Homo sapiens: one gene and its partner. The protein of the gene in region 2 interacts with the protein of the main gene of each other region in a pairwise test. Each region holds a gene or a part of one and is shown on either strand. Other genes may lie near its edges.

Region 1 (3,400 bases), on a different chromosome or scaffold from region 2:
CCTTTTTTTTTTTTTTTTTTTTTTTTGAGACAGAGTCTCACTCTGTCACCCAGGCTGGAGTGCAGTGGTACTACCTCAGCTCACTGCAACCTCCACCTCCTGGGTTCAAGCAACTCTCCCATCCCAGCCTCCCAAGTAGCTAAGACTACAGGCGCCTGCCACCATGCCCAGCTAATTTTTGTGTATTTAGTAGAGATGGGATTCCACCATTTTGGCCAGGCTGGTCTTGAACTCCTGACCTCAAGTGATCCGCCTGCCTTGGCCTCTCAAAGTGCTGAGATTACGGCCATGAGCCACCACACCCGGGCTTGACCATATTTCTTAATCCTCATTTTATATCTGTGACCCTCAGAGCCAGTGAGACAAGTAACTAGTTAAGATGGTGTTAAGAGCCACGGTTTGAATCCAAGTTTGTCTGACTTTGAGTCAGCAATCTTTACATTGTGTCACACTGTGACATTTTAGGAAGATTAATTTGGTGTAGGATTCTAGGTGGCCTCGTAGGAGGAAAGAAACTTCTGGCAGGAATACCAGGTACAGTGTGCAGGGTTTCCTGATCTGCCTTTCCCAATCCCAGCTCTTCTGCATGTGTTTCCTTAGTTCCATCTTCATTATGTAGCCTACTCCAGTGGTCAGTGCCTTCACTGTCCATCCCTCCTGAATGGGCTCACTCTTTTCTCTGCTTATGCAGTACATCTGCCATCCCCTGCTTTCAGTTCCCCTGTTATCTTTGGATCAGTTCACTGTTGTTTCTCTCCCTTCCTATTTCTCTACCTAATTTTGGGTACATGTTTGAAAGCTCTCAAATGTGCTCAGCAGTTATTTTAGTTGATAGCTAGTTTAATTCTCTCATTCCTACCTTATGCAGTTTCCAGTCTCCTAGCACAGAAACCAATGTGCATTTGAATTTTTTTTTTTTTTCAGACTGGGAGACAAGACTTGAAACCAAAGAGCCAACTCCGAAGCCGGGTATTACTGAAGATTTATGCCATGGGGTAACAATGGAAAGGGAAGGTATCTGGCATTCTACTCTAGGGGAAACCTGGGAACCTAATAATTGGTTAGAGGGACAACAGGATAGTCATCTGAGCCAAGTGGGAGTTACCCATAAGGAAACCTTCACTGAGATGAGAGTATGTGGAGGTAATGAATTTGAAAGATGTTCCAGTCAGGATTCAATCCTTGATACACAGCAAAGCATTCCTATGGTAAAAAGGCCCCATAACTGTAATTCACATGGAGAAGATGCCACACAAAATTCTGAGTTAATTAAAACTCAAAGAATGTTTGTAGGAAAGAAGATCTATGAATGTAATCAGTGCAGCAAAACCTTCAGTCAGAGCTCATCCCTTCTTAAGCACCAGAGGATTCATACTGGGGAGAAACCCTATAAGTGTAATGTATGTGGGAAACACTTCATTGAACGATCCTCCCTTACTGTACATCAAAGAATTCATACTGGAGAGAAACCCTATAAATGTAATGAATGTGGGAAAGCCTTTAGTCAGAGCATGAATCTTACTGTCCATCAACGAACTCACACCGGAGAGAAACCCTATCAGTGTAAAGAGTGTGGCAAAGCCTTCCATAAGAATTCATCTCTTATTCAGCATGAAAGGATTCATACTGGAGAGAAACCCTACAAATGTAATGAATGTGGTAAAGCTTTTACCCAAAGCATGAATTTGACAGTTCATCAGAGAACTCATACAGGAGAAAAACCCTATGAATGTAATGAATGTGGAAAAGCCTTCAGTCAAAGCATGCATCTTATTGTACATCAGAGAAGCCATACTGGAGAAAAACCCTATGAGTGTAGTCAATGTGGAAAAGCCTTTAGTAAGAGCTCAACTCTTACCCTACATCAGCGAAATCACACTGGAGAAAAACCTTACAAATGTAACAAATGCGGGAAATCCTTTAGCCAAAGTACATATCTTATAGAACATCAGAGACTTCATTCTGGAGTAAAACCTTTTGAATGTAACGAGTGTGGAAAAGCTTTCAGTAAGAATTCATCTCTAACTCAACATCGGAGAATTCACACTGGAGAGAAACCTTATGAGTGTATGGTGTGTGGAAAACATTTCACTGGACGATCATCCCTTACCGTGCATCAGGTCATTCACACTGGAGAGAAACCTTATGAGTGCAATGAATGTGGAAAGGCATTCAGCCAGAGTGCTTACCTTATTGAACATCAAAGAATTCATACTGGTGAGAAACCCTATGAATGTGATCAGTGTGGAAAAGCCTTCATTAAGAATTCATCCCTTACAGTGCATCAGAGAACTCATACAGGAGAGAAACCCTATCAGTGTAATGAATGCGGAAAAGCCTTCAGCCGGAGTACAAACCTTACACGACATCAAAGAACTCATACGTGAGGAATGTTTTCACTGGCCCTTACCTCATGATTAACTCTTCAGTAATAATCATATGAGACATACAATGTAGAAACCTAATAAATGTAATGATTGTGGGAATCTTTCAGTTGAAGTACAATATGTCATATCAGATAATACCACTGCAGAGAATCCATCTAAAAGTAGAGAAATCTTGATTCAGAATGTATAATTTCCTTTATATCAGAAGGTTTAAATAGCTAATATAAACAATGAAGAGTCATGCTGAAGATAAGTTCTGTTATATCATACCGCACATTCTCCTTTGGCTATCAGAGACTTTACACTGGAGAGAAAAATGTGAGAGTGTTTAACTGGACAGCCCAGAGACCTGGTATGTAGTCCTAATCTGCCACTGCCTTGGACAACTTGCCTACTTCCACCAGGTTATGGTTCTTTATTTGGTAAATGAATGATTTTGGAGTTAGAAATCTTGTAGGAGCTCTGTTAGCTCTAAAATGCTACAACTCTATAAATATAATGAATGCTGGGAAATCTTTGTTCTTTTACGATCTTATGCTGTCTGTATGCAGTCTAGATGCTCTTGTTCCACAATCTGGTTTCCTTGGATCCTTTTAGTCAAAATGATTTACCTTTACGAATTCCTAGTACCCTTCCATGCCCCTAATCTTCCCCTGCATTGTTATTTTGTCCCCTAACTACAGGCTGGTTTCCATAAATTAATGGAATAAGTATGCAAATGTTTTCATTTATTTATTTATTTATTTATTTTGAGATGGAGTTTCGCTCTTTTGCCCAGGCTGGAGTGCAGTGGCTTGATCTCAGCTCACTGCAAGCTCCACCTCCTGGGTTCATGCCATTCTCCTGCCTCAGCATCCCAAGTAGCTGGGACTACAGGCGCCTGCCACCATGCCTGGCTAATTTTTTTGTATTTTTAATAGAGATGGGGTTTCACCATGTTAGCCAGGATGGTCTCAATCTCCTGACCTCGTGATCCACCCACCTCGGCCTCCCAAAGTGCTGGGATTACAGGC
Region 2 (5,839 bases):
ACAGAGTCTTGCTCTATCACCCACTACACTCGAGTGTAGTGGTACAATATCGGCTGACTGCAGCCCTAACTTTCCAAGCTCAAGGGATCCTCCTGCTTCAGCTTCCTGAGTAGCTGGGACTACAGGCATGCGCCACTATGCCTGGCTAATTTTCTTGATTTTTTGTAGAGACAAGGTCTCATTATGTTGCCCAAGCTGGTCTCGAACTCCTGGGCTCAAGCAATCCTCCCAACTTGGTGTCCCAAAGTGCTAGGGTTACAGGCATGAGCCCCGGCACCCAGCCGATTTTTCTTTTTTTAAAAAAGCAAATTATTTTCCTGGAGGAATTTAAAAGTATAAAAAGTATTAAAACATAATATAGCAATTCAATTACCACCCTCCAGAATGATTCCCCATAATACCCTAGCTATGTGTTCCCAGTATGTTCTATGTGTATATGCTTTAAAAAATAAACACTATATAAGCACAAAAATTCCTCTGATGGTTCTCTCCCACTTTCAAGTTAAATTATGAACTAATTGATATGACCCCTTGTTGCTGCCTGATCTAGTCTCTGCAATATGGAACTTTTGCTATTGTTCTCTGCACTCTTTCATGCCTTTATGCCTTTGCATATGCTTTGTATAGAATATGGTTGACCTCCCTGCCCCAAATCTGACAAATATTTTACTGGTTCTTCAACCAGTTCTCCAGAAGTAGAACAAGTTCTTCCTCCTCTATGTTCCTATAGAACCCTATGTAGACTTCTTTACAGCATTTTGCACATTGTATACTCATCTATTCCTCCCCCCAGATTCTCCTCTACTACAACTCCCCTCACCTGGATTTTGAGCTACTTGAGGGTAGGGACTATTTTTCCAATTCTGTGGCAACAGTGCCTAGCCCAGAGCTTTGCACAAAGCACTATGCTGAATAAATGGTTGAATTTATTAAATCGTCTTCCTCCTTCACTTATCTTTTTAAAATATTGGGCAATTACCTCAGCAAAATGCAATTCCCCTGTCTTTCCCTTCATTTTACTCGTGAGTCGAAAAGTTGTCCTCATCAAGAAGTTGTAGTAATTCAACTGTAACAAGGCTACAAGGATTCATCTCTAACAGAGAAAAAAAAAGGTCAAAAGTTGGGAGTGAAATTAGCCCTAATAAACAACCATTTTCCTCAACCTTTAAGTCACTTGGAAGTGCTTGGCATTCCCCACCTATGTCTTTATCCAGCTCTTGTAACATATTTTTACTCAAAAGGTTAAGTTTCTTAAAGACACATATAGTTACTCGTTTGTACTTAAGTTGTATTGTCTATCTGTTCTAAATTGTTATTTATAGCAGTTTATGTGGCCACTGTTTTTCATGGCAACAACATAGCTTCATTATGGATTAAATAGGCTTCTTCTGGGCTGGTGTAGATCACATTTCTATGCCTATTTATGACACTGTTTCCAGGGGGAACTATAATTTCCAATTAGAAAAAAATATATACATTCTTCCATACCTTTCAAGTGATTTTAATGCAGGTGGTTCACAAGGAACACACTTTAACAATTTTAAAGGACTATAACTCTCAATTAAAATTCTAAGCTTACCAAAGAATAAACATCATCTTTTGAAAAACACTTAAAACTCAATAACAATTTCAAATCACGATAGAAAGTGCTTCCCGCAAAATGCTAAGAGCTTAACCGACATGAAAATAAATCTAGAGCCTTCGTCTGTCCCCACAAGCACAAACCCATAACCCCAAGAGAGATTCTCTAGACAGTGCACCCAAACTACAATACCCAGAATACCCTTCCCCGTCTGAACGCTGGGGACAATCGGAAGGGGAGGGGAAGAATTGTGCGTATAGAGAAATAAGTGTCCCGCAACTCCATCTCCCATAATTCTCGGTCCTCACTTGTGTCTGTCTGCCAATGTCAACACGAGTTACCCCCAGGAAGAACAGCCTCCAGCGACCTCAAACTACATTTCCCATGAAGCCATGGGCTCGGGCCTCCGGCTTCCCCGGTGACCAGTAGCCAATAGGAGACGCCGCAGTGGGCACCCTGTGTGTGAGAGTCCAGCCTTGGGCCAGAGTGCCGGGTCTAGGCCTGGAAGCGCGAGGCGGGCATTTCGGAAGAGAGTGGCGCGGCGTGGGGCGCCGCGAGGGCACTACGAGCCCAGGAACTGCCGCGCCGGCCCGATTTTCCGCGGCTGTATAAGGACTAGCGCTTCGGTAGCCGGGGAGCTGGAGGTCAGAGAGGCAGAAAGCCCCGGTGGCCGTGGCTGGGGACTGTGGGACTGAGGGGGCCTAGGGAGGAGGGTGCTTCCGGGGCCGCGGTCCTCAGCGCCTAACTCCACCCAGCTCCACCTCTGCAGGGGAGGGGGTATCGGGACTGGGAGTCGGGGGTGGGCTTTTGAGCTCTAGGCGCCAGTTCTCTTGAGCCCGGGAGCGCGCTGTCTTTGCTCTTTTTTTTTTTTTTTTTTGGTCCAACTCGCCCGCCCCTTTTTTTTTTTCCCACGACGCCGCCCCCCTCCCCCTGGCTCTGTGCCTCCTCAGAGGTCCGAAGTTGGGGTTTGCGTCCAGGGTTTTGCCTAGGCGGTGACTGGACTCTAATTCTTACCGCAGGAATTGGGTGATCTCTTTCCTCTTTTCCCTCAATTTGTATTTCAGGTTTGGGCACATAACCCTCCCTGCGCTACACTCCCCATTTTCTTTGGGGCATGGGAATTCCTTGCCACGCTCAGGGCGTGACTTTTTTTTTTCAAACTTTCTCTTTTTGCCTCCTTAATTGATCGCCATCTCTTTACTGGCCCCTCAGCCACCTGCCACTTCCCCCACCAGGTCTTTGAAGTGGGGAGAGTTTCCCCTCAATTTCTAGAAGGGATGGGAAGCAAAAGAGGGAAGGAATCTTGCTTTTGAGAAATGTGTGTTTAAGGTTCAGTGCAGGGTTCTGGTGAGAGTAAAAGGCAAGTTAGACTGGTTATAAAAATCCAGCGCTTTAGGGGTTTCCAGCAAAGACTGATAGCACTAATGTTGACAAACATTTAGGGGGCACACCTTTATTCTACAGAATAAAGTAGACCGTGTGAAACAGACCATATTAATCATTGTATTATTACAAACGTGTGCAAAAAACGCTAAGAGGGGTCAGTGGAAGAGCATACTGATGGGGGTGGTGAGTTCATCTATGGAAGTTCAAGCCTAACCCGGGAAGTGCTGAAGCCCTCATCCGGCTTTCAGGCTTTGTGAAGGAGGTGAATTTTAATCTGGGCTCCAGCAGAGTACAGGGGATTTGAAGTTGTCAAAGAGGAGGGAGAAAATGCTTCCTGCTACTGAGATTGGACTTTGAGAAGGGTAAACAGAAGAGGGAGCACTGTGAGACAGGTGGGCTTGCCTGATTGGAATAAAAGATATCAGCACAAATATACTGGGAAATAAATAGGGTGGAGAAGCTTGGGGTCATAATAACATGATACTTTGAAACATACACATAGTTTGGATATTATTCTGTATCAAATAAAATTGAAGGCAAAAATTAAGATTGGATGATTTTTCTTTTCATCCTAGGGAACCTGATTTGAGATCAATTCTTGGAGAACACAAAGAAGTGTGATGGTATGTTCCAGGTGTGAGTTTAAATCCAAGAAGAAGCTTGTCTTGCAGATGTTTTGTTTGTAGCTATTCTTAGCTACAGTCTATAGCTGTCAACTTTAAAGCCTAGAGACATCGATATATTTTCTTAAGAAATGCATTTGCTGTCCCCGTGCATCACATTATCTGAACTGTAGTCATCTCATTGGGTGACAATAATGACTGCTATTTATTGAACCCACATAATGTCCTAGTCATCATCATAAATACTTTGTTGCATTATCTTGAGTGTTATGAAGTAGGTACTATTATTCCTGTTTCTTTTTCTAGAAGAAAACACTAAAATGCACAGAAGTTAAACAATCTACTTAAAGTCACATAGATTATAAGTTGAGTTGAGGTTTGGGTGTACAGATTTCTGACTCCAAAGCCCATGCTCTGTTCAACATGGTTTGCTGCTCCCAATGTTCTTTCTTGTTCTTGACTTTCCAGTTGTGGTAAGGAGAGATAGGTATAGTTCATCATCCTGGCCAAAACCCAAATGATTCACTTAAAATTTCTATGTCAGAATGTATTTGCTGTAAAGTAGCTGCCAAAACCAAATTAACTGTCATTGCAACTGTAGCTAATTGTGTCTGCCAAAACCATAGTCAGTACGGCTATTTCTGAATTAGATGATTCTCTTTATAACACATATCATACCTCTAAGCTATTTGGACCTTGATAGCACTTTGGATGTATTTTATTTTAGCATTTTAAGAAGTTACCTGGGACACTAGATCTCTTTCATGACCTCTGCCCACGTGAAGTGTTGGAGAAACAATGAAGTACAAGGTGTGAACTCTTCCTGGGGTCTAGCTGGGGAGCTGGATGCCCACAGTTCTGAGATACTGTAGTGTGTAGTATAACAGAGACAGGTACAAAATGCTATGGAGGGATAAAGGAAGGTGTGACTCACTGTAAGGGAGACTCGGGGAGAAGGCTTCCATGAGGAGGTGACATGAGATAGGTCTTGAAGGATAGTGAGTTTGCCCCAGGCAGGGAAGGAGTGGAGGGGAGGCATTTCAGATAGAGGAGTCAGTCTGTGAAAGATGTGTGGCTGTATAAGAGTAGGGCATGTTCATTCAATGTGGAAGAATTCAGCATGGTTGGAGTGCAGATAGTTGAGTAAAAGGAAACTGTAATGGGTAGGAGAAGAGTCTGGAAAGAGGTTGGGGCTGATTTGCAAAGAACCTTGATTGCAATCCTAAGTTGGAATGTGCCCCCATAGGTCAGTGGTTCTCAAAACGTAGGGCATCTGCCAGTGGTAGTTACACTGTGCTCCCACAAACATTTTAATTTTACTAGTTACATGTTCAAATATGTCTTAAAAAACATAAAACTGAACTAAGCCATCACATCTAAGATTACTTTGGATTTTACTTCATAAAAATAGAAAGTGAACCAGTTTTCAGTTCATTTAAAGACAAATATTAAGTAGTAATAGTACACATTGTGTGTGAATATGGTAAAAATCACTAAGTAATACTCAGACTGAAATTTGGGAAGTGCTGCTTGTAGGCCATAAGAAACCATTAACATGTTTTAGAAGAGCACCACGATCAGATTTTTACTGTAAGGAAAATGACAGTGGGAAGGATACAGTGGAGGTGGATATGATGAGGCTGCTACTCTGTTCCACAGAGAGACAATAAAGACCCAAGAGTAGTGACGTGAGCGGAGCGAAGAGATTTGAGAAACATTTAGGAGGTAAAATTATTAGGACTTGGTGGATGTTAATATTATTTTGTCAGTGTTACCAGAATTGTTTTAAAAGTCTGCATGCCCCCCTTGCCTCTTGTCCTTTATATTGTATGGTGAGCAATAATATTGCCAAAACATGCTATGTTTCTATGTTCATTAAGATTACAATGGAAGCTATAGTTACCACTCGAGTGGATTTGGATTACACACAAACATCCTTCCCACCTTACTCAGTGTCCTTGAGAGCAGTAGCACAAATATTCAAGGCACTGATTAGGAATATGACCATGATCTGTGACCCTTAGGCATGCAAGAAATTCCTCAGCCTTTAAGACTCAGCTCATATGTCAACACCTCTGTGAAGCCTTCCCGACAGCCCTTGCCCAACATACATGAATGCACGCACAAGGCAATGTTAGGCCTCGGGCTTCCACAGGACCCTGCACTTAGTTACCTCCGTCCTAGCCTGTACCACACTGTAGGGTGTCGGTCTGTGGATGTCTCTGTGTTCCCCACTAGACTGTGAACT

What was found. Proteins that work in one complex are often made in the same cells at the same time.
Region 1: the proteins of ENOX2 (region 2) and ZFP2 interact in a two-hybrid assay, tested with the Homo sapiens proteins (one large-scale study listed by BioGRID).

The regions. Positions count from the first base shown.
Region 1 is NC_000005.10:178,930,313-178,933,712, forward strand, and holds the end of ZFP2 (zinc finger protein ZFP2), read left to right. Parts: intron 1-924; 5' UTR 925-1,001; coding exon 1,002-2,387; 3' UTR 2,388-2,900; downstream 2,901-3,400. UniProt on the Homo sapiens protein: Probable transcription factor involved in neuronal differentiation and/or phenotypic maintenance.
Region 2 is NC_000023.11:130,899,436-130,905,274, reverse strand, and holds the start of ENOX2 (ecto-NOX disulfide-thiol exchanger 2), read left to right. Parts: upstream 1-2,065; 5' UTR 2,066-2,226; intron 2,227-3,543; 5' UTR 3,544-3,588; coding exon of another isoform or gene 3,589-3,591; intron 3,592-5,839. UniProt on the Homo sapiens protein: May be involved in cell growth. Probably acts as a terminal oxidase of plasma electron transport from cytosolic NAD(P)H via hydroquinones to acceptors at the cell surface.